Linked DNA regions of Homo sapiens: all the other regions are linked to region 4. Evidence: fine-mapped expression QTL. A gene starts in region 4. Each other region holds a variant in brackets. All regions are shown on one strand. Distances are from middle to middle.

Region 1 (4,089 bases), 61 kb after region 4:
TAGAGCCTTAAGAAGTGCTTAAGTCATGAGGGCAGAACCGTCATGGGTGGGATTTGGGCCCTTGAGGGAGTGCGTTCATCCCTTTCCATCCCTCCCACCGCCACGTGAAGATACAGTATATTTCCCCCTTGGATGCAGCAACAAGGTGCCATTTTGGAAGCAGAGAGCAGCCCACACCAGGCACCAAATATGTGGATGCCTTATTCTTGGACTTCCCAGCCTCCAGAACTGTGAGCAATACATTTCTGTTTTTAATAAATTGCCCAATCACAGGTATTTATAGCAGCACAAATGGACTATGACAGAAATTGATACTGAGAATGGGATGTTGCTATAACTAATACCTAAATATGTGGAAACAGCTTTGAAACTGAGTAATGGGTAGAGGCTGGAAGAATTTGGAGATGCATGCTGGAAAAAGCCTGTATAGACATAAACAGAGCTTTAAGGGAAATTAAGGGTGAGGGCTCAGAAGACAAGGAGAGCTGTAGGGAGAGCCTAAATCATCTTAGAGATTAATTAAGTGGTCTGGTCTTGATCAGAATGCGGTTAGAAGTATAGATGGTAAAGACACTTTTGATGAGATCTTAAAAGGAAACTGGAGGAAAGGTCATCCTTGTTACACAGTGGCAATGAACTTGGCTGAATTGTGTCTATGTCCTAGTGTTTTCTGAATGGCAGAACTTAAAGGCAATAAACTAGGATATTTGATGGAAGAAATCTCTGAGCAAAGCGTTGAGAGTGCAGCATGGCTTCTCTTGACTGCTTGTAGTAAAATGTGAGCAGAGAGAATGAATTAAAAACGAAGTTTATAATCAAGAGGGAAGCAGAGCTTAAAGTTTTGGAAAATTCTCAGCCTGGCCATGTAAAGAATGAAAAGGCATGTTTGGGAGGGAACACCAAGAGTGCTGCCAGGTTCACATTTGATAATGAGATGAGTATGTGTAGAAGGAAGCCAGATGCTATTTATCAAGACAATGGAAGAATGAACCCAAAGGCATTTCTGAGGTTACTGGTTCTGGATTCTCATCCCTGTCCCAGAGTGCCAGGACCCTGAGGGCAGAATAGTTTTAAGGGAGGACTCAGGACACCATGGAACCTTGGGGCTTGCTGCCTAGGGCTGCCTCAAGTCTCTGCCCCCCCACCCCCCACATTCTGGTGCAGCACTCTTTGGCCACCATCCCACGTGTGGCTTATGCAGGCCCTTGTCAGGCCACCCTTCCTGTAAGCCTTGGCAGAGTCCACGTGATGCTAACTCTGCAGGTGCACAGAGTGCATGAACTGTGGAGACACAGCCACCTCCACCTAGATTTTGAAGGATGTGTTGGGGACCCTGGGGGCCCAGTCTGAGAATTGTCACTGAGGTGAGGCTGCTGCAGAAAACCCTCACTAGGGCAATGTTTAGTGGAGCAGTGGGATTGGGGCCACTGCAGAGAGCCCCAAATAGAGTAATATCTAGTGGAGCTGTGGGAACAGGGCTGTCCCTGAGAACCCAGAACTGTCCAGCCACCAGCATGCAAGTCTATCCTGGGAGAGCCTAGACCTCAACCTGTGAGAGCTGCTGCATGGGTTGCACCTGGCAAATCCATGGGAGTGGATCCCCTGGACACTAGGGGACCCAGTCTCCACCCCCCTGTGCTCGGAATGGGGGACACAGCATCAAAGAAGATTATTCTGAAGCCCCAAGATTTAATGCTGTTTGCCTTGTTGGGTTTGGACTTACTTGGGACCAGATACTCCTTTCTTCTTGCCTGCTTCTCCCTTTGGGAATGGGAATGTACGTCCTATGCCTGTCTCATCACTGTATTTTGAAGGCCTGTAACCTATTTGATTTCACGGGCTCATAGCTGGAGGGGAATTTCACTTAGGATGAATTGTACTTTGAATCTTATGCCTTTCTAATTTAGAAGATATTTAGGTGAGACTTTGGACTTACATTTTAAAGTTG[A/G]TACTGGAACTTTGGAGGCCACTGGGATACAATGCATGCATTTTGCATGTGAGAGGGGTATGAATTTGGAGGGCAGGGGCAGAATGCTATGCTTTGAATGTCTGTGTTCCCTGCAAAATTCATGCTGAAACAATCCTCAATGCAATACTAACAGGTGGTGCCTTTAGGAGGTGACTGGATTATGAGGGCACCTTCCTCATGAATGGGATTGGCCCCTTATACGAGAGACTTCACATGAGATTTGGCCCCTTTTGCCCTTCCACTTTCCACCATTGAGGACGCAGCAGCAAGCTGTCATCTTGGAAACAGAGAGCAGGTGTTTGGAACTGGTTCTGTTTCATCTGATTCTGGGGGCCCCTCTTTTTCCCTGTGCAAGATCCCCAAATTTGCTTCCTTCTCTCAAAGAAAGCTCCCAATATAGATGGGACTCAAAGGGAGTCATTTGCCCTCTAAGAGGTGTCACAATATGTCGTCTCAGTCATTCACACCTTAGTAAGAAAAAGCTTTTCAGGTCCTTGCCAGAGATTCGGGGAAAGGCTTTGAACTGAGAAAGAAGCCGCGCCCCTGAGGAGGGCGCTGCCCGGAAGCCACGCTCACTTCTGCTTGCACTTAGGCGACCTCGGGAGCTCGGACTCCTACGCAGTCACCGGGAAGGGCCGCCGCCCCGCCCGCGGCTGCTGGCCCGGGTGACGCTTCCGCCTGCTATAAGAGCAGCGGCCCTCGGTGCCTCCTTCCTGACCTCGCACCCAGCTCGGAGCCCGGAGCGTGCCTCGGCGGCCTGTCGGGTAAGGCCGGGCCTCGGAGCGGTGGCGCGGGGGCGGGCGCGGGGAGAGGCCAGGCTCCCTCGCTCAGCTTCCAGCCCGGCACCCCCCACCCCCCAGGCTCAGGCCCCTCAGACCCGCAGCTCCCTGCGCTCGCCCTCCCCGCCAGCTTCGCGCCCCCATCCCTTCCGGGCGCCCCGACGGAGACAGACGACCTCTGATCCCCCGCCCCCGCCTGGGTACAGGCCGGGCCAGCCCGCGAGGGAGGGAGGGAGGGAGGACGACAGATGCAGGCGGAAGGCAAGACTGAAACCTGAGATCAGAATGTTGTCCCTTCTCCCTGAATTCCCTTCCTCCCAGAGCTGTTTGTGACGGTTTCCAGGCAGCCCAGGGCCAGGCCGCGGCTCCTATCTGCAGCTGCAGGGAGAGAGAGGAGGAACCCCGTGCGATTCTAGAGACGATTTCACAACAAGGAGAAATCAGCTTTGTGCTTACATGCCGAGCAGCCAGCACGGTTCTTCTTTGCCTGTCCTCGGGGGAAATCAGGGCTCTGAGAGTGGAGATCGAGATGGGCTAGTGGGTGGCGGATGGGACGCTGCACGGCCAGACCCTGGACTGTGGTGGGTTTCCAAACTGGCACATCCTACACCGGCTCTGAGACTGTGGGCACTGGACCTCATACCTTTTGAACCTCAAAAATAAGGAAGAATTATATTATTATAATAATTACAGTGATACCTTTGCTGGAGTTTTAATGCATAGTAGGTAGCTGAGTCTCTGATAGAAGGCTCTTAGTTCAGGTGAAGGTAGGCAATGGATTCATTGCCCAATGAATCAGAGACTTGAATCAAAGGCTCAGAAGCACGTGCGCTCCCACACATAGGTTGGGAAGACCCAGGGCTGGGTGGGCCCTCCCACCCCACTAAAGCTGGGGTAGCTGGGGCCTGCCTTACCCCCGCCCCACCCCCAGACTCACCTGTCTGCAAGGTCAGAGCCCTTTAGGGCACCCTGGGTGCCCTAAAATCCCCTATAACTGCTGAGTCCTTGGCCAGAATGGTCCCACATTTGTGGGCCTGGGAAAGTGTTCTTGCCCTGCTGGAATAAAAAAGCGGGGAGAAAGTACAAGATCCAGGATGCCTCAGGGCGGTTGGCAGAAATTGAGGAAGCTTCTGGAGAAATAGTGCTGCCTAATCTGCTGGCGTGGGCAGTGGGCACCATGAGGACCCTGTTCTGTGTTGCAGTTTTCACCATGGAGCAGCTGAGCTCAGCAAACACCCGCTTCGCCTTGGACCTGTTCCTGGCGTTGAGTGAGAACAATCCGGCTGGAAACATCTTCATCTCTCCCTTCAGCATTTCATCTGCTATGGCCATGGTTTTTCT
Region 2 (4,089 bases), 46 kb after region 4:
GAGATATACCCAGTAGTGAAATTGCTGGATCATACGGTAATTCTATTTTTAATTTTTTGCGGGACTTCCATACTGTTTCCCTGAATGCTTGTACTAATTTAAATTCCCAGCAACAGTGTGCAGGTGTTCCCTTCCTCCACATCTGGACCAGCCCTTGTTATCTTACTTGTTTTTTTTTAAATTTATTTATCATGTTATTTGATTTTTAGAACAACTCTAAGCCATGGACAAAGCGGAAGCCATTACCTTCCTTTCACAAATGAGGAATGGAGGACAAAGGTTTAGAAACCTTTGTCCACTAGACACTTGACACTAGACACTTGTCTAAGATCACACAGATAGGAGACTTAAATTTAGATGTTTGATGACGCAGAGATACAGACAACAGGAAGAGGATGGAGGTTAAACCCAAAAGCTCAAGCAAAGGGCTGCTGAGCTGAGCATCTGTGAGGCTGTACTACACTGAAGGGCCTGCATGAGCGACGGTGTGGAGGGAGAAGACCCATAAGACAGTTACCAGAGGGACCAGCCCAGACAGAGAAGGGGCAGGGGACAGAGCCATTCAGCTGGAGCCATACTGAAGAGGAGTTGGAACTTTTTCCAGGGCCATCATTTATGATCAGTGGAGTCACATGATCTCCTTGGAGGCTGGGACACTGCTTAATCCTTTCTCATCTCCCCAGAACCTAACCTGATATTTGGCACTGTAATAGAAAGTGCACAACAAATGTTTATTGTCCAAACCAGCGGGGATCTCTGGCTCCGAGGATGATCTGGCAGCAGAAGGAGGCTGGTTTGGGTGTGGGGAAGAGGTAGGGTGGGTCAAACAGAGGTGGGGCCATGAGAAAGGGGCATTCACTCAGAGAACCACTGTCAGCTGGAGAAAAACAAAATGAAACCAAACTATTTTTCCCAGGCCTTGAGGCAGAACTTTCTTTTTCTAGAAGCCAGATGAAAGAAAGAAGAGACCAGGCATGGTGGCTTATGCCTGTAATCCCAGCACTTTGGGAGGCTGGGGTGGGCAGATCACAAGGTCAAGAGATCAAGACCAGCCTGACCAATATGGTGAAACCCCATCTCTACTAACATTACAAAAATTAGCCAGGCATGGTTGCGTGTGCCTGTAATCCCAGCTACTCGGGAGGCTGAGGCAGGAGAATTGCTTGAACCCGGGAGGCAGAGGTCGCAGTGAGCCCAGATCCCGCCACTGCACTCCAGGCTGGGAAACAAAGCAAGCCTCTGGCTCAAAAAAAAAAAAAAAAAAAGTACAGGAAGCAGAGAGGGGGTGAGAGGAAGGGAGAAACAGGGTGGAAGGGGGAGGGGGAGGGAGAGGGGGAGACAGGAAGAGGAGCAAAGATAGCAATTCTTAAGGCCTGTTATCTATTAGTTACCCTTGCCTTGGCGGCAGACACAGCTGAGTCCTAACGCAGACTTTTCCATATCCCCTCTCCCGCCTCAACAGTGATCTCTCCTCCCACTTCGAGAGTTAATTCAGTGCTGCTTTAGCTTTACGCCCCCATGAAAACAGGAAAACGGTTTGCAGCTTTATCATAACCTTGCTTATGTCTGTTGTTGTATGTCTCAAATACCCTGTCCTCAGGAAGGCCCACCAACGCTGGCCGGCCTCCAAGCACCCGGGCCTCTGCTCATGTACAGCTCCTGAACTGCCCTGCCTCTGAGTTACTGTAAGTCCCCGCCCACTCGAGAGCACACGACCAGTCTCACCCCCAATTTTAAAATGGCAGCCCCCTTGCCTTTATTTATAGACAGGTGCTTTCCAATCCTTAAGTGATTTTTTAGTGAACAGGTCATAAAGTTTCCTGTCATGGCATGAGGTGGAGGGGACAGCCCTCAGAGAGGGGTGTGGGGACCGTGGCTGGCGGTCACATCACACCGGCCTCTCCCGCCTGCAGCCTTGCCCTTTGCAGATGACTCAGGTGGGGAAAGCTCAGAAGGAAAGCCACCAAGTCCGGATGCCCCACCCCACACGCAGAATCTAGCTTCTCAGGGAAAGCAAGAAGGGGATGCTTCAGGGGACTTTGCTGAGGCCAACCTTTGGCATCTTTTTTGAAAAGACATTTGTGTCCGTTTGCTCATTTTTTTCATGATCAAGGAGGGTCCTCCCAGGCTGCCCTTGGCGGACCCCTTTCCTTGTACCCCGTCCACCTTGTCCTCTGGCTTCCAGCGGGTCCACTCCTCTTTCCTGCTTCCTAAACCTCGCCCAGAGCCTGCGACCCTCTCACCCTGGCCCAAACTCCCAGACACAGATTTGCAGCAGCGCAGCCAATGATGTTTTCTTTATGTGACTTCCTGGGACACTGCTTAGTGCCTCCTCCCATGTCTTCCTTGGGCTGCAGCATCTCTCAGGGCTCACAGAGGCCCCTCTAACTCCAAGGGGACTTCTTGGTCTGTTTCACAGGCCAGGAGACGGTGTTCGGATACATCCCCGCTGTATGTTTCATCCATGGCAGTCTGGCCTTCCCATGAAGAGCCTC[T/C]GTGTGAGCAAATTGAAAATAGGGCTTCTTGCCCCAACCTTCCATGGAAATGGCTATGGTTTCAGTCTCCATAAAGGTTACTTGCTCTTTTTCTGAAAATCCAAAAGGACAGTGTTAACTCTTTGTACAAATTGCACTGGCCATTTGGTCTTAGCGCAAACTTTTTGGACCATGTTTCATTTTCGTTTTGAGGTGAAAGAAAATATCAAAGCCTCCTAGCATTTTGAAACTCCTCAAATATCAAGTGCAAAACTGCTGATGGGATCAAAGATGCCGGCTAAATTCTTGGCCAATAAGATAAGACTCTTTCCTGTCAACTGACAAGCAATACATGAATATGTGCAGGGTAGCTGATAATCTATGAAATTATCGGCTGGGTACAGTGGCTCACGCCTGTAATCTCAGCACTTTGGGAGGCCAAGGTGGGTGGATCACCTTAGGTCAGGAGTTCGAGACCAGCCTGGCCAACATGCTGAAACCCTGTCTCTACTAGAAATACAAAAATTAGCCAGGCATGGTGGCAGGCACCTGTAGTCCCAGATACTTGGGGAGGCTGAGGCAGGAGAATGGCTTGAACTCGGGAGGTGGAGCTTGCAGTGAGCCAAGATCGTGCCACTGCACTCCAGCCTGGGCAACAGGGTGAGACTCCATCTAAAAAAAAAAGAAAAAAAAGAAATTACCACCAATTACTAACTAGTAACTAATAAGTTACTTGAAATGAACTTGATCCTTGTCTTAAACCAGTGGTGGGGTACAGGAAACTTGAAGATTCTTGAGCTGCAGCCCTGTTTTGATTTGTAGTTTTTGTTGCAATATACACCTCTCTACTAGGCACAGGTGACACATGGGAGCTTGTGTCGACATGTGGGAGCCCTGTACAGGGTCCAGACCTTGAGGTGCCAGGCAGCAGAGCCTGTGGCTGGGAATGGGGGTGCGTGGGGCTTATCTTGGGCCTCACATAGGGCCTCAAAGTTAAAATGTTGAAATTATTTCCTAGTAATCTTACTATACTTAGAGTCACAGAGACAGATACACTGAAAAGACGGACAGAAATTACTTTAATGATAAAAGTTAAGCTCATGTTCCATGAAAGAAATGCCATAAGAATGTTTTCTAAATCCTATGCTTAACTTCGGAATAGCGCAATTAGATTGCATTGCATTTTTGAAAGATCACTTGTTAAATACAAAATTTTAAAACATACCACAATATTTGGCACTTCATTTTCTTTATTAAACAAGGAGACTCAGAAAATCATAGTGGCCTGGGCCCATGTGAACCTCTGTGAAAGCCTCCCACAGGGAGAGAGGACTGGGATGCCATGGTCCTAGGTGGGAATGGGGGGAGCAGTGTAGGCCTCGGTGCGGACCCAATGCTGGGGCCCTAAGGCTCTCTCCTCTTTTCTTCCAGGTGGAAAATGAGCTTATATATGAAGAAGTCAGCGAGTGGACAAAGCCAGGCGCAATGGATAGCAAAGATGTGGAAGTCTCCTCGATTCAAGTTACAAGAAAACCGCAGCATGGAGTCTGCTCTCAGCTGTTGGGGAATTACCGATGCCTTTGACTAAGTCAAGACTGACTTTTCCAGAATATCA
Region 3 (4,089 bases), 21 kb before region 4:
GTGGGGAAAAGAAAGAGAGATCAGATTGTTACTGTGTCTATGTAGAAAAGGAAGGCATAAGAAACTCCATCTTGATCGGTACTAAGAAAAATTGTTTCTGCTTTGAGATGCTGTTAACCTGTAACTTTAGCCCCAACCCTGTGCTCACAGAAACATGTGCTATATTGAATCAAAATTTAATGGATTTAGGGTTCTGTGGGATGTGCCTTGTGAGCAATATGTTTGCAGGCAGTATGCTTGGTAAAAGTCATCGCCATTCTCCATTCTCGATTAACCGGGGACACAACGCACTGCAGAAAGCTGCAGGGACCACTGCCCAAGAAAGCCTGGCTTTCCCCCCACTGAGACAGCCTGAGATATGGCCTTGTTGGAAAGGAAAGACCTTACCATGCCCCAGGCCCACACCGGTAAAGGGTCTGTGCTGAGGAGGAGTAGTGAAAGAGGGAGGCCTCTTTGCAGTTGAGATAAGAGGAAGGCTTCTGTCTCCTGCTCCTCCCTGGGATTGGAATGTCTCAGTGTAAAGCCGACCATTCCCATTCGTTCGATTCTGAGATAGGAGAAAACCACCCTGTGGCTAGAGGCAAGATAAGCTGGCAACAATGCTGCTCTGTTACTCTTTGCTACACTGAGATGTTTATGTAAAGTGAAAGATAAATCTGGCCTACGTGCACATCCAGGCACAGTACCTTTCCTTGAACTTATTCATGATACAGATTCCTTTGCTCACATGTTTCCCTGCTGACCTTCTCCCCACGTGTTGCCCTGCTACACTCCGCTGGCTAAGATAGTAAAAATAATGATCAGTAAATACTGAGGGAACTCAGAGGCGGGTGCTGGTGGCCCCCTTCAAATTGTCAAATGGTTCTCATCTATAAAATGCTAATGTCTGATAGGCAGCTCAGGACTTCTTGCTTCCTAGGTTTTCACTAAAATTTAAGGTTACTGAGGATAGGAATTATAGTTAATATATAATTCTGTATATAAAATGTGCCAAAGAAGATGTGTTCTTGTGAGATAAAGAATAATTTTGTCAGATTTAGAACTTATCTAAAGGTTAATTCAAATTATGGACTTGAAAAGGTTATTTATGAAAAGCGTAGTAAGGAACCAGTAAGTAGGGAAGAGAGATGGGAAGAAAGTTATGTATGTGAAGATGTATTTTTGTTAAGGAAGGTTATAAAGAAAAATAATTTTGTGTGAGAAAGGATATTGTATGGTGATTTTTTTTCCTAAAGTAAAATGACTAATTATTAAAAAACAGAGAGAAAATTTAGGACAAAACAGAAAATCCAAGCATGTGATAGATGGTCTGTGTAAATCATATGTAATTTTTTCTGTTTCTCTGTGTCTGTCTTCATGCACATACCAAAAAAAAAAAATAGCAAGTTGAGAAAGTTTAGATAATAAAATATTCTTTAAAACCTGATAGAAAATTGAAGACATTTGGCTAATTGACATTGTTCATAGTTAAAGCTCTTAGTCTTGATAAAGGTAGAATAAGAAATATTATAAAGAAATACATTGCCAGTTTGGCAATTCTTTTTAAATGTAGTTAAGTATGAAGCCAGATTACCATGGAGCGAAATTTCACACACAC[A/G]TTTGCACTGCTTCACACTATATTTGCAATTCTGCATAGATAGTACTAGCACCAAAGTAATTACTGGTCATATACCCAAAGTGAATGTCTTAATTGCACAAAATATATCATGTTATTGATAGACTTAAATACATTGAATTGTATATCAGGAACAAAATATCTATTATGTGTTTCTTTAAGATGCTGGTTAACACTTTAGCCTCTAAGGTAAACTGAGTAGGAGAACAATTGGGGTTGGTTTCCTGTTTATTTCCTTCTGCTTCTAATTTTCATTTATTTGCTGTTTGTTCTCCTTTGGGTTTTACATATATATGCATATATAAAACCATTGATGTTTTTAAGTTTCCCGTGGAAGTCTTTTATTTTGTTCTATAAATAGTCATTTTGTTTCCTATGCATTTCCAGCAATTCATCATTTGTTTTATTTATCTAAAATTCTTAAGCCCCTTTGTCAGGCATCCAAAAATTGATAAAGGACATCAGCCATTTAAATTTTGGTTGGTTTTGCTTGATGATGGGGAGAGCTACAAGACCTTTAAGGCACCTAGGAAAAAAATAAAAGACTAATTTTTGGAAGTTCTGAGCAGAAATAGCACATTATTTATTTTGTTACTTGAAGAAGTGGGTGAGAATGAAAATGTTTAAATGGTGTTTATTTCCAAGGTAATTCAATTCAGTCAATAATTTCAGTTGGTTTCAGATCTTTCCTTTAGGTAGTGAGGAAACACGGTGATATGAGTACAACATTTTAATGTTCAGGAAAGATTGGCTGTATCCTTAATGAAATTGTATTGCTTAGGATTATTCTGAAGCTAATTTAGTTGTGTTGACCATTATTAAAATGTAGTTGTGTTGGCCATTATTTTGTTGTGTTGACATTCACTTGGATTAAGTAGTAATAAAGAATGTGAGACTTTCTAGTGATTTTTGATCTCAAGCCGTTTATCACTGATGGGCTTTCATATGTGTACATGAAAAAAATATGTACAAGTGTTGCGCTGGTTTGAAGATTTTAGTGGTGAAAGTTACTTAATTCGTTCTCAGTACTGTATCTAGGAACTAATCTTGGAAATATGGGATGATGTTCTTTAAACATAGCTGAAAAGAAATTACTGTGTGCTTGTTCTTACCTCGTCTTTGCTCTGTTGTATACTATTTAAGTGAAAGGAGCTTATTTATCCTCATTGAATTTCTAAAACCGATATTTGCATTTACCATTTTTTAATGATGGAGAGAAAAGCTAGTTGTTTTGTTTTGATATGTTTGGTACAGGCCCCATCACTTTTGGATGCTTTGGGTCACAGTTCTGTCACCAGAACGCTAGCAACTAGATACTCGCAACGAGTAACCTAAATACTTTAATACAGTGGTTTGGAGTGTGCAGGCAGCAACTACTGAATGCCAAATCACAATATTTTAACTTGTGACATGTTAGAATGATAGAACTTTCCATAGTCTAAATAATATCCCTTTAACTAATCCTCCTGCTGTTAAGTTACAGGTCTTTGACTCCTGGGTCTGAAAAAGACACCAACCCCTGCTAAATTTTGAGCACTGATACCTGTCAAAGGCTCATCTTCAGACCCTCAGATCTGGGAGAAGGTGACAATCAAAATGAACTGCTTTTGTGAGACACAGGGCCAGAAATTAAAACTATTCAACCCTCTAGGCCCAGGGACTATTGCAGAAGAGGTGGGCCTATGGGATTGTAAGGGCCAATTTTGAGGGATAACATTAGTTCTGTAAATTAAACATTAATATCAAAAGTGCACTGGTGCAAGGCTAGCGTCTAGGCCCATATGTCTGAATAACAGGGTTTCTTGAAGCATTGATCTGTTCTTTAACAGAAAATCATAAACGGTTATAAAAAGTATATGGTAATCTTACCTTATGATTAAAATTAGATTTGTTTGTAAGGTTTTATCAAAATTAGCTTTAACATTAATAATACACCATACAAAGGTAAAATTCTGATTTTCTCTTTTGAACAAAATATTTGTGTAATATTAGTAAGAGATAAAAGATTTTTGTATACCTTTTTTGTAAACTAAAGCGAAAAAATGGAGGGGGAGAGACAGATTTCGTTGGCCTCATGCTGTGTTTATTAGGTTTTATTGTTTGGGAAGCTGAATCTCCTCTCTATCAAAAGGTAAATGTTTTTGTTTTATCATTTTGGCTAAATAAATGACTATTTTATAGTGACCTGTGGTTCTATTTTGTGATAATCAAGTATCTTAACACTGATATTTGGCAAACTTTCTAAGAGCAAAATTTCAAGTTCTAAATTCAGTCTTTTTGACCTCAAACTAACTTTTTTGAATATTAAATTCTCTGAAGCCCAAGAGAGACAATTTAGGCTTATTTGTTATGTTAGAATTATTCAGAAAGCACTGTCAAATCTGAGGTGGTGTTTAGCTTCCTTTGGGTTATATTTATATAGATATGTCGTTAATATTTGTTCCAGGATTGTATAAGATTCCTCAAATTCAGAT
Region 4 (4,089 bases):
TGCCCCCATTTGTTGCCTTAAAATTCATGGGTATGGCCAGGCACAGTGGTTCACGCCTGTAATCCCAGCACTTTGGGAGGCTGAGGCGGGAGGATCACCTGATGTCAGGAGTTCGTGACCAGCCTGGCCAACATGGTGAAACCCCATCTCTACTAAAAATACAAAAATTAGCTGGGTATGGTGATGCATGCCTATAGTCCCAGCTACTTGGGAGGCTGAGGCAGGAGAATCGCTGGAATTGGGAGGTGGAGGTTGCAGTGAGCCAAGATCACGCCATTGTTCTCCAGCCTAGGCGATAGAGCAAGACTCCACCTCAAAAAAATAAATAAGTGGATAAATAAATAACAGCTTTTTGTTTAATCAATTGTCTCTATCATTATAAAGTTTTCTATATCATTGATTTATTCTCTAATCTTTATTATTTCTTCTTTTCTACTGATTATGTGTTCAATGTATTTATACTTTTTCTAGTTTTTGAAGGTAGAAACTGAGGTCATTGATTTGAAGCCTTTCTCCTCTCCTAATATAGGCATTTCATGCTGCAAAATTTCCCCAAAGCTGACTTAATAACATCCTACAAATTTTGATGTTTTTATTTTCATTTTTTATTAATTTCAAAATACATTCTAATTTCCCTTTTGATTTTATAATATTTTTATAAGTATTATTCAGTTATAAAAAGAAATAAAGTACTAACAAATGCTACCTGGAACCATCAAGAATGACCCTTGAAAACATTATGCTAAGTGAAAGAAGGCAGTCAGGAAAGACCACATATTGTATGATTCAATTTGCATGAAATCTTCACAGTCGGTCAATCCGCAGGGCCAGAAAAGAAATCTGGAGGTCGGAGCCTCTCCCAGAAGCCAGGGGTTGTGGGAAGGAGGAAATGGAGAATAATTGCTAATGGGTATCACAGTTCCTTTTAGGGTGATGAAAACCTTCTGGAGTTAGATAGTGGTGAGAGTTGGACAGCTTTGTCAATATACCAAGAACTATTGAATTGTATGCTTTAAAAGGATGCATATTATGGTCCGTGAATTGTCTTTTAATAAAGGTTTTATTTTTAAAAACAAGCTAGGCACCTAGGGTGTCAAATTGAAGGAGGCTCTGATTCTCAGGGCCGCGCAAATGCAGGGTTGGCACCTATGCGTGTGGCCCTCCTGAAATTTTGTGCCTTAGGCACCTGCCTTGCTTCTCCCTAATTCAGGCCCTCAGGAGAAAGCTCTAATTCTGGTCAATTTGAAACAGGAGGGCACGGCTTCTGGGCGACGCTCCGTGCTCCAGAGAGAGCCATTTGTCTGTTCCCTTCCTCTGGACGTCACCGTGCCAACATGAAATGCTTCCAATTGAGTCCAGCCTGAGATGGAAGGGGGTGGGGGGATATCTGATGACATCACGAACTGCTGCATCAACTCCCCCGAGTCCCTGCCTCTGGACCCCCTGATAGAGGACACAAGGAGTGTCCTGAGCCCGTGTGACTCAGTGTCTCTTCCCATCACTTTGCGGGAAAATGGGGCTGCTTACACCACACCGCAGCCCAAACACCTGTGGCTAGAGAAGGGCTTGGGTACTAGGAGTGAGGACGCCTGGTTCTGGGCCCAGGACTAGTACTAGTTAGTGGTGGGACCTGGAACAAATGCTTTGGTTCTAAGTGAATCCCCCATATTCATGACAAGAGGCGTGGAACACAGACCCATGGGACCTTCCCACTGGAACACGGAGCTTGGCTGTCACCCGACCTTCGCTTCCTTAAGTACAAAAGCCCAGGGTTCCAGGCTCCGTCTCCTTTCCCGCAGACGCCTTGTTTCTTCGCGCGGAGGCCCTGGACGCCGCAGGCTCCCAACCTACTTCTCTGGGCTGTCAGGTTCTGAACCCGGTCCTGAAGAGGCCCTGGCGCCGGGGGTGGGTGAGGCCGAGCGCGCGCCTTGGGAACCTGGCCGGCCTCAGGCTGGCGGGAGCATTGGCGGACATCGCCCCGGGCGGGGCGGACTGGGGGGACCCTGACCTGACCCTGCTCCCAGCTCTGACCTCGGCCACCACGCGCGGCGCCCCCGCTGGTCCCGCCAGGCTCCGCCTAAACGCAGAAAGCGTGGGAGGCGCCCGACCCTGCGGTATAAAAGCGGTGCCTGCAGAGGCCCTAGCGGGAGTCCGCGGCGAGCGCAGCAGCAGGGCCGGGTCCTGCGCCTCGGGGGTCGGCGTCCAGGCTCGGAGCGCGGCACGGAGACGGCGGCAGCGCTGGACTAGGTGGCAGGTGAGGGCGTCCCCGCGCACGGCTGGGGTAGGGGACGGGAGTGGCGAGCTTCAGGTCCACCGGCTGCCACCGAGTGATGGGACCGGAGGACAGGAGAGGTCGCTCAGCCAAGAGCCCCGGGGAGGCGGTGCCTTCTCGGTGGGGTCAGCAACGGTCTCTGGGGGGTGCCTGGGAGCGGCAGCCGGTCTCCGCCTTGGCGGCCCACAGCCACCGCGGACGCCTCCCTCCCGGATGTCTCCTCGCTGCCCTTCCCTGGCCGAAGCCCTCCCCTGCAGCCTCCTCCCCACCTGCCGGCCCTGTGTTCTCACTGCTCTTCTCTGCTCTGGGATCCGCAGGATGACGTCTGTCCTGCTTCTTCACTGTCCTTTACAGTCACCAGTCTCGGCCGGGCGCAGTGGCTCACGCCTGTAATCCCAGCACTTTGGGAGGCCAAGGCGGTCGGATCCTTGGAGATCAGGAGTTCGAGACCAGTCTGGCAAACGTGGTGAAAACCGGTCTCTACTAAAAATACAGAAATTAGCCGGGCATGGTGGCCCACGCCTGTAATAATGTCAGCTATGTGCTGAGGCAGGAAAATCACTTCAACTCGGGAGGCAGAGGTTGCAGTGAGCTGGGATTGCGCCACTGCACTCCAGCCTGGCAGACAGAGTGAGACTTCGTCTCAAAACAAAAAAAAGAAAAACACAAAAAAACCACCACCAACAACAACAAAAAAATAAAGCCACCAGTCTCGGAGTTTCAAATCTGAGCACTCTTATCCATCTTAATTCTTTCAATAATTCAGCTAAACGAATGGGGTCCTGAGAATCTGCAGAGCCAGGCTCAGCGCTCGCCTGCAGAGCCTGCGGTCTGTGGGGACCACCAGCAAGATGAGGAATCACCTTCGGGAGGAAGGGTCGTGCTGGGGAGGGTCGCGCCGGCGGGGTCAAGAGAACCTCCTCCAGGGTGGGAATCAGAGCCTCCGGGCCGCGGTGTTTGAGGGTGAGTGGAATTAATGCCGTGATGGACATGGGGCCTTCTAAGGGGGACCAACAGTGTTTGTGAAGAGTTGACTTTGGGAGGGGTTCAGGATGGCCAGAGGTGGAGGCTGTGACCTCAGTGAGTCTGGATCAAGGGAGGGGGCAGGTGGGTAAGACACCGTTTTAACAAGGTGGCTTTGAGCGGCCACCTTTGAGGGGCCTAAGGGCCCCTGGGAGATTTAGGAGGAAGGACAAGAGGATTAAGACACCGCTTTCTGAGGTGCCGTGTGGCTGTGGCGTGGGGGTGGCTGGGGGAGTGGGTTGTGTTCATTGTCCAAGGCTCTCCAGCGCTTTGCGTGGCGTTTTGGGGAGCACAGATGAGGTGTCCCGACAGTGGGGAGTGGCTCTAGGGAGACCAGAGGCTCGGGAGGGGGCCTGGGCATTAGACCAGGCACAGAATCCGAAGTGGGAAGAAATGTGGGCGTAGAGGGCAGGCCTTGGGGATGGGTGTGGGGGAGGAGGGGGAGATGGAAAGGAGTCAGGGAGGTCTCCCAGGCTCACCTGGAGGAGTCAGGGTCTCATTTCCAAGTGCACTGGGAACTGCAGCCTGGGGGTGGGGGTTCATTTGGTTTCAGGCCTGTGGCCAAGAGACCCACCCCCTCACATTCACACTTTGGTCTCCAGTGGCTTCACAGGCACCACCTCCTTGTTCTCGCCTGTTTTACTCCTCACCTTGGGCTGTTTCTTGCCTTTCCATTCTGGCGTTCTGCAGGGATCAGATCCTTCCTCTCACGCACAATCTACACTCATGGCTTTTGCTGGGAGTAATGAGTAAAGCTCCCAAATAGATGTTTCTGAGTTAGGAAGCACATTAAA
Region 5 (4,078 bases), 40 kb after region 4:
TTCTTCTTCAGAGACAAATGCTCAGTGAGTTCTATCCTACGTGTTGCAAGGTGAAGGGAGGGGGGTCACAAAATCACGACAGAATCCCATCTTCAAGGAGCTTAAAATCTGGTCATGGAATACAATGGACAAATGGGCCGATTATTTTACGACTGACCCTCCCCACAACAGGCTGCCCCGTCTCCATTTGGTTATGCCTGGTCCGTTGCTGCTGTTGCCCTCTCTTCTCAACACTCTGGGATTGTTGGTAGCTGACTCTCTCATCAGGACAATTTTTAGGGTTTTCATTTCTCAGAAAAGTTGTTGACTATGGAGAAACAAGAAAGATTGTGGCAATGAATACAATTCTCATTCCTATGAAGGCATAAGAAGGATGGGTCTTTCCCCCAAAACTTTAAAGAATCTTGCCAGAAATTGTATCAGGCCAAGCCAGAGGGGCCGTCCTTTGCAGAGGCTGCAGCGGTGTCCCTGCAACACACACAATTGCTTAGGTGGTGAAAGCGACAGAGGGTGGGGTCTTTAATTTTTATGTTTTCTGTTGTTAACAGCATTGTACTTTATAAAGGACAGAAATTTATTTCCACAACTATTTCTACTACATATAAATTGGTATGTGGTAGATAAGAAAATTATTAGGTAAGGAAAAGCAATCAATTTTTAATTATTCTGGGAGACAAAAAACAAAAAACTTTAGAACAATAGTCATCAGCAAATGATTTCTTTTCTTTTTTTTTTTTTTTTTTTTTTTTGAGACAGAGTGGGCTCACTGCAACCTCCGGCTTCTGGGATCAAGCAATTCTCCTGCCTCAGCCTCCCGAGTAACTGGGATTACAGTCATGCACCACCACGCCCAGTTAATTTTTTTGTGTATTTTTAGTAGAGACGGGGTTTCACCATGTTGGCCAGGCTGGTCTCAAACTCCTGTCCTCAAGTGATTCACCCGCCTCGGCCTCCCAAAGTGTTGGGATTACAGGTGTGAGCCACTGCACCCAGCCCAAACATTTCTTTAGTTATCTCTTACTAAATGATGGAGGAGGCATATGCCTTACATAGCTCAGGGCATGGCGGCCAAAGAATCCACTGGTATTTGGAGCAGTTTCTTCCAGTTCAGCTTAGTTTAACAAACATGTAGGAATGTTGACTTTGGCCCAGGCCCTGGGGATATAAAGATGAAAAGGTAATTCTGCCCTGTAAACTCTTTGGGCAACTGGGAGTGATCCTGTATTCAGTGTGTCAAGTCCACCTCCCCTTGGGGAGCCTTAAGAAGCCTCAGCCTGGGGGGATCATGTATGGCCTTCCTCCTAGGAGATGTGTTTGGATGATTAAATCCACGAGTGTATCTCAGTCCTTGGTGCAATGCCTGGGGCCGGATAGGTCCAGCGAGGTTGGATGTCGGCATGTAATCCCAGATACCCCACCTTCCACAGCTGTGCATCAGTGTTTCAAAGGAAAGTGATCTACACAGTTTTATTAAATAAACAACAGCAGCAACTTGTGTGTGGGGTAGGGAGTCTTAAAATCAGCAAGGTAAGGATAGAACGATGTCTCCATGTCTATCTGTGCAGAAACTGTCTTGAAACACTAGGACACTGTCATGGGCTGGATTGGGTTGTTCTTCACTCCCCTCAATTCATATGTTAAATTCCTAACCTCCAGTATCTTGGAATGTGACTGTATTTGGAGACAGGGTTTTTACAGGGGTAATTAAGGCAAAATGAGGTCATTAGGTCACCCAATATGACTGGCGTCCTTATAAAAGGGTTAATTTGGACACGGACACATACAGAGGGAAAACACTAAAGAGCTATAGAGAGAGGAGGGCCATCTGCAAGTTAAGGAGGGAGGCCTGGAACATATTCTCCCTCTGAGTCCCAAGAAGGAACCCACCTTACTGACACCTTGATCTTAGACTTTCAGCCCTCAGAAATGAGACAATAAATACCTTTCTGTTGTTTAAGCTGCCCAGCCTAAAGTACTTTGTTATGTATGGCAGCCCTAGACAGTTAATACAAATATTAATATCAACAATTC[G/A]TCACAATGATTCCTTTTGGGTTTTTAAATGCAAATGAGTGCCTAAACACCAGAGATGATTTTCTCTTTAGCTGAATCATGTGAGTATTCTGAGTCAAGTTTATATTTTTAATAAGTTAAAACATTTTGCCTTCCCCTTTCCGTCATCTGGTTGTGGTCATCTGATTTGAATAACATCTGCTTTCTTTTAGAATGAGAACAAAGCCGTTACACTCATATATAAAATACCTTCTCACCACCTGTTTTGGGGGATTAATGGTAGTTTAAAAATTAAGTGCAACTCAAGTTGTGGCCAAGCAAGGCCGACTGACTTCCTGAGATGTTAGGATCCTGTTCTTGGGGCCACCTCATTTGTTTGCATGGCTCCAGGGGACACCTTTCACATTGGGTATGACTGGAGCATCATCCTTGAAGGTGGGTGACTCTGCAGCCCTGCCTACCCTCTGGTGACATCTGAAGTGTTGTTGACATCAGCTTTAATTCAGAGGAACTCTACACAAATGTCTTGGGTACTCCTGTGTGCTGAATACTGTGGGAAGACCATTCTTCAAGGACTTTATGATCCACTCCAAAGGTGGAAAGGCAAGCCCACCTTCAATATGACATAGAACATGGTAACAAAATAGATGTGTAAAGCACTTTTGCTACTTAGAAACACTTTAGATCCATTTGACTATTTGATTTTTTCTAGCTTTCTTGAGGTATAGTTGACAAACAAAAATTGTATACATTTGCAATGTACAATGTGATGTTTTGATATATGTCTTAGTCCATTTTGTGCTGCTATAACAGAATACCACAGACTAGGTAATTTATAAAGAACAGAAATTTATTTCCTCACAGTTCTGGAGGCAGGGAATCCAAGATTGAGGGTCTGGCATCTGGTGAAGGCCTTCTTGCTGCCTCGTCCCATGGTGGAAGGTGGAAGGCAAGAGAGGATGAGAGACAAAAGAAGGCCCAAATTGTCCTTTTATAAGGAATCCACTCCCCAGATAAATGCATTAATCCATTCATATGGGCAGAGCCCTCATGATCTGATCACCTCTTAAAGGTCTCACCTCTTAATACTGTTACAGTGGTAATTAAATTTCAACATGAGTTTGGGAGGGAACAAACATTTAAACCATAAATACAGATACATTGTGAAATGATCACCATAGTCAAGCAAATTAACATATCCTCCACATTTACTTATCATTTGTGTATGTGATGAGAACATTCAGGATCTACTCTTAGCACATCTCAAGCATACATTCTCATGAACTTTCATAGCCATGCTGTACCTTAGATTTCCAAAATGTGTTAACTTTGAGTACCTTAAACTTTTTGAGGTAGTCTGTCACGCAGGCTGAAATGCAGTGGTGTGATCTCAGCTCACTGCTACCTCCCCCACCTGTGTTCAACTTATCTTTCCACTTCAGCCACTCAAAGTACTGAGATTACAGGTGTGAGCCAGAATGCTCAACCCATAATTCAAACTTTATACCCTTTTGTGACCGGGAATTGGTGGGGTTTTGGTCTCACTGACTTCAAGAACAAAACCGCAGACCCTCATGATGTGTTATAGCACTTAAGGTGGCACATCTGGAGTCTGTCCTTTATTGATGTTCAGATGTATTTGGAGTTTTTTTTTTCTGGTGGGTTCACGGTCTTGCTGGCTCAGGAGGCAAGCTGCAGACCTTCGTAGTGAATGTTACAGTTCTTAAGGCAACGCATCTGGAGTTGTTAATTCACTCCTGGTGGCCTCATGGTTTCACTGTGCTTAGGAGTGAAGTTGCAGATCTTCACCGTGACTGTTACAGCTCACAAAAGCAGTGTAGACCCAAAACGAGCAACAGTAAGATTTATTGCAAAGCGAGAGAAAAGAGGAAGGGAGGGGGAGGAAGGGAGAGGAAAGAGAGAAGAAGAGAAGGAGAAGGGGGAAGAAAAGAAAAGAAAAGAAAAGAGAAAGAAGAAGAAGAAGAAGAAGAAGAAAAAGCTGCCACAGTCTGGAAGGAGATCTGAGCAGGTTGTCAATGCTGGCTCGGGCAGCCTGCTTTCATTCTCT
Region 6 (4,089 bases), 34 kb before region 4:
TTTTTTTGGACGGAGTCTCGCTCTATTGCCCAGGCTGGAGTGCAGTGGTACAATCTCAGCTGACTGCAACCTTTGTCTCCAGGGTTCAAGCGATTCTCCTGCCTCAGCCTCCCGAGTAGCTGGGACTACAGGTGCTTGCCACCACGCCTGGCTGATTTTTTGTATTTTTAGTAGAGACAGGGTTTCACCATGTAAACCAGGATGGTCTTGATCTCCTGACTTCATGATCCACCTGCCTCAGCCTCCCAAAGTGCTGGAACTACAGGCGTGAGCCACCACCCCAGGCCTGCTTACAGTTTTTATACCCCTTACTCTTTTCCAGGCTGTCTCCACTCTTTGTTCTTCACCTCCCGGGCTGGCCCTCAAGTATTGCATGCCCAGTAGCCCTCCCAGTAGGCGCTGGATGGTTACTGAAGTTGTGCGCATGCCCATTAGATGCAATTCTCCCTTACTGGTCGAGCGCCCCTAGAGGAAAGTCATACACCGGGTAAATTTCACACCTTTCTATTACTGCACATGCTCAAAACCTTGTCTGGGACTGCCTTGCTAACTCCAGGTGTCTTCTGTCTGTTGCAAGACTCCTGTTATTCCCAGCGCCAGCCATGGCCACTTATTACCCTAGAGGGATAGTTTTATGCCCTTCAATCCCGGTCCCAATGAGAACCAGACAGCTCTGGGGTCCCTTCCTTGTCTTGCTCATTATTTCAGAGGGACAGATTTATAATTGTGACTGTGGCTTGACAAATGTCCAACATTCTTGGGGGCCCGTGCATGCCCTGCTCACGTCTAACCGCCTACTCTGACATTCTCATCACAAAAAAAATAGATGAGGTAATGCGTATGGGAATTAGCTTGTTTTAGCCATTCCACTGATATGGAAGGGTGTGCTCTCTTTAAATAACATGGCGGGGGGGGGAAGGGCGTGGTCCCTGGCTAGGGCTCCAACCCTGGGCCTGTGCCCACGGACCTAGTTGAGGACAGGCATTTTTGTTTTCCTGCCCCAATGTTGCACTTCTCAAGACCACCCTGGCCTGCCACGCCCCTACCCTGTGCCTGTAAAACCCTGAGACGCTAGCAGGCAGACACACAGGTGGCTGCATATCGAGAGGAGTACATCAGTGGAGGAACACACGAGCGGCTGGAAGTTGAGAGGAATGGGATGCACCAGCAGGCACCGGCATGCAGGCAGGCCATCCACCGGCAGAACAACGCAGTTTGACGGGGGCAGTTGAAGGAGAGCCCAGGTTGCCAGACTTACCTTGCACTCATTCTCCAAGCCCACATGTGATCCGATTCTTCTGGTACACCAAGGCAGGAACCCCAGGATACAGAAAGCCCTCTGTCCTTGCGATAAGGTAGGGGTCTGATTGAACTGGTTAACACAAGCCACCTATGGATAGCTAAACTAAAAAAGCACTCTAACACATGCCCAGTGGAGCTTCAGGAGTTGTAAACATTCAGCCCTAGACACTGCAAAAGGGTTGGAGCCCCACAGCCTACCTGTCTGTATTCTCTCCTAAAAGTTGGAGCAGCAGGGCACTAAAGTGAGCCATCAGCCCCATCACACATCCCGAGAGGAA[C/G]AAGGGAACTTGCCCAGTTTCACTACCATGTAAGCATGTATCAAAACATAACATTGCAAAAGTCTACACAACTATTACTTGTCCATTTTTTAAAAATTCACTGCAAGTGATTTTTATTAGAGGACCTAAGACTGTCAAATCGTTCTTTAAAAATGTTTGGAAAAGATCAAATTGAATTTTTAAAATTCACAATTTAAACTTTAAATATACGTTATTCTCAAAGTACAGTTATTTGCTATGCAGTGAATTGTGCCCAGCCCCCTCCACAAATTCATACGTTGAAACCTTAACACGTAATTCATGATTTTAAACGAGAAATTTTTACAGTTAAGGTTGCTAAAAACAACCATCACCAAAAACACTGTGCTGGTGGGTTCATTGGTCTTACTGACTTCGGGAATGAAGCCACAGACCCGTGTGGTGTTACAAGTTCTTTAAAGCGGTATGTCCTCCCTTTACTTCTTTCATGGTGGGCTTAGCGATCTCATCGGCTCAAGAGTAAAGCTCTAAAACATTCAGTGAGTGTCATAAACTACATAACGCCATACGCTCCTGATAGTTGTTTAACTCTACAAATGGGTTGGTTCTATTTTCATACCTTCAAAAACAAAACCACAGAGCTTTACAAAGAATGTTACAGCTCATACAGGAAACAAAACCGAAAAACAGCACATTTACTGAAAAAAAGAGAAAAAAAAAAAAAAAAGCAAGAAGAATAACCATTTTCACTACATTGAAGCAGATCTCAGCAAACATACCACGGCTAACTCCGACAGCCTGCTTTTATTCCCTTATCTGGCCCCACCCACATCTTGCTGATTGGTCCATTTTACAGAAAGCTGACTGGTCTGTTTTACAGAGAGCTGATTGGTCCGTTTTGCCAGGGTGCTGATTGGTGCGTTTACAATCCCTGAGCTAGACACAAAAGTTTTCCAAGTACCCACTAGATTAGCTAGACACAGAGCACTGATTGGTGCATTTACAAATCTTGAGCTAGACACAGGGTACTGATCGGTGCATTTCCAAACCTTGAGCTAGATACAGAGTGCCGATTGGTGTATTCACAATCCCTTAGCTAGACATGAAGGTTCTCCAAGTCCCCACCAGATCAGCTAGACACAGAGTGCTGATTGGTGCATTTACAAACCTCGAGTTAGATTAAGAGTGCTGATTGGTGTATTCACAATCCCTTAGCTAGACATAAAGATTCTCCAAGTCCCCCCAGATTAACTAGAATACAGAGTGCCGATTGGTGTATTTACAATCCCTTAGCTAGACAGAAAGATTCTCCAAGTCTCCACCAGATCAGCTAGACACAGAGTGCTGATTGGTGCATTTACAAAACTTGAGCTAGATACAGAGTGCCGATTGGTGTATTCACAATCCCTTAGCTAGACATAAAGATTTTCCAAGTCCCTAATAGACTCAGCAGCCCAGCTGGCTTCACCTAGTGGATCTCGCACTGGGGCCGTGGGTGGAGCTACCTGCCCATCCCATGCCGTGCGCCCGCACTTCTCAGTCCTTGGGCGGTTGATGGGACCGGGTGCCCTGGAGCAGGGGGCGGTGCTCGTTGGGGAGGCTCAGGCTGCGCGGGAGCCCACGGCGGCGGCGGTAACGCGGGGGAGACTTAGGCATGGTGGGCTGCAGGTCCCAAGCCCTACCCCGCAAGAAGGTAGCTAAGGCCCGGTGAGAAATCGAGCACAGCGCCGGTGGGCCAGCAGTGCTGGGGAACCCAGCACACCCTCCGCAGCTGTTGGCCTGGGTGCTAAGCCCCTCACTACCTGGGGCAGGTAGGGCCGGCCGGCGGCTCCGAGTGCGGGCCCGCCAACCCCACGCCCACCCGGAACTCTAGCTGGCCCGCAAGCGCTGTGCGCAGCCCCGGTTCCCACCCGTGCCTCTCCCTCCACACCTCCCCGCAAGCCGAGGGAGCTGGCTCCGGCCTCAGCCAGCCCAGAGAAGGGCTCCTCAAGCGTAGCCAGAATGGGCGCCGAGGCCAAGGAGGCAGGGAGAGCAAGCGAGGGCTGCCAGCATGCTGTCACCTCTCACTGGCATCCTGATCTTCGACTTTGGGGCCTCCAGAACTGTGAGCAAATACATTTCTGTTGTTTGAGCTGCCTGGTCTATGGTATTTTGTATGGGAGCCTAAGCTCACTAAGACATTATTCTTGGTGCACATTCATACACTGTAATTCATTTCTTAACTGAATCTACCTCTTATCAAACATCACTGGTATTTTTCCTCAATAAGGTATTTTTCAATAGGATCTTATTAAGAAAATTTTTATAAATTGCACTTTATTGTCAATAAATGTAAAATTACTATCATGGTCAATTGACTCTTGTCTGTTGACCATAGGTCCTGTGTGACCTATGCAGCATGCAGGGCTCCACATTCACAGGGATACACACTTGGATGGATGTTTTACTGTCATCAGTTTGAAATTATTTGTAGTTTTCGAACAGAGGATCCTGCATTTTCATTTTGCAATGGGCCCTGCAAATTATGTAG

The links. PIP is the estimated chance that this variant, and not a neighbour inherited with it, causes the effect.
Region 1: its variant is fine-mapped to the expression of SERPINB9 in whole blood (TOPMed, PIP above 0.99).
Region 2: its variant is fine-mapped to the expression of SERPINB9 in whole blood (INTERVAL, PIP above 0.99). The same link has a PIP of 0.9 or more in visceral fat.
Region 3: its variant is fine-mapped to the expression of SERPINB9 in whole blood (TOPMed, PIP 0.91).
Region 5: its variant is fine-mapped to the expression of SERPINB9 in whole blood (TOPMed, PIP above 0.99).
Region 6: its variant is fine-mapped to the expression of SERPINB9 in whole blood (INTERVAL, PIP above 0.99).

The regions. Positions count from the first base shown.
Region 1 is chr6:2,840,456-2,844,544 of GRCh38, reverse strand. SERPINB1 (serpin family B member 1) reads left to right here and starts at 2,682. Exons shown (of 7, transcript NM_030666.4): 1 at 2,682-2,733; 2 at 3,951-4,089. The coding sequence starts at 3,959. RefSeq lists a silencer at 2,738-2,787. The variant A/G (reference allele first, on the strand shown) is at 1,949.
Region 2 is chr6:2,855,507-2,859,595 of GRCh38, reverse strand. It overlaps the pseudogene SERPINB9P1. Among named protein-coding and RNA genes, the nearest start is that of MIR4645, 3.4 kb to the right of the region's middle. RefSeq lists an enhancer at 438-1,017. The variant T/C (reference allele first, on the strand shown) is at 2,496.
Region 3 is chr6:2,922,615-2,926,703 of GRCh38, reverse strand. No RefSeq gene overlaps it. Among named protein-coding and RNA genes, the nearest start is that of SERPINB9, 21 kb to the right of the region's middle. The variant A/G (reference allele first, on the strand shown) is at 1,598.
Region 4 is chr6:2,901,366-2,905,454 of GRCh38, reverse strand. It overlaps SERPINB9 (serpin family B member 9), which reads left to right and starts at 2,146. Exons shown (of 7, transcript NM_004155.6): 1 at 2,146-2,254. RefSeq lists silencers at 1,951-2,000, 2,101-2,180, 2,421-2,470 and an enhancer at 2,181-2,682.
Region 5 is chr6:2,861,178-2,865,255 of GRCh38, reverse strand. It overlaps the pseudogene SERPINB9P1. Among named protein-coding and RNA genes, the nearest start is that of MIR4645, 9.1 kb to the right of the region's middle. RefSeq lists an enhancer at 2,222-2,551. The variant G/A (reference allele first, on the strand shown) is at 2,032.
Region 6 is chr6:2,935,202-2,939,290 of GRCh38, reverse strand. No RefSeq gene overlaps it. Among named protein-coding and RNA genes, the nearest start is that of SERPINB9, 34 kb to the right of the region's middle. The variant C/G (reference allele first, on the strand shown) is at 1,581.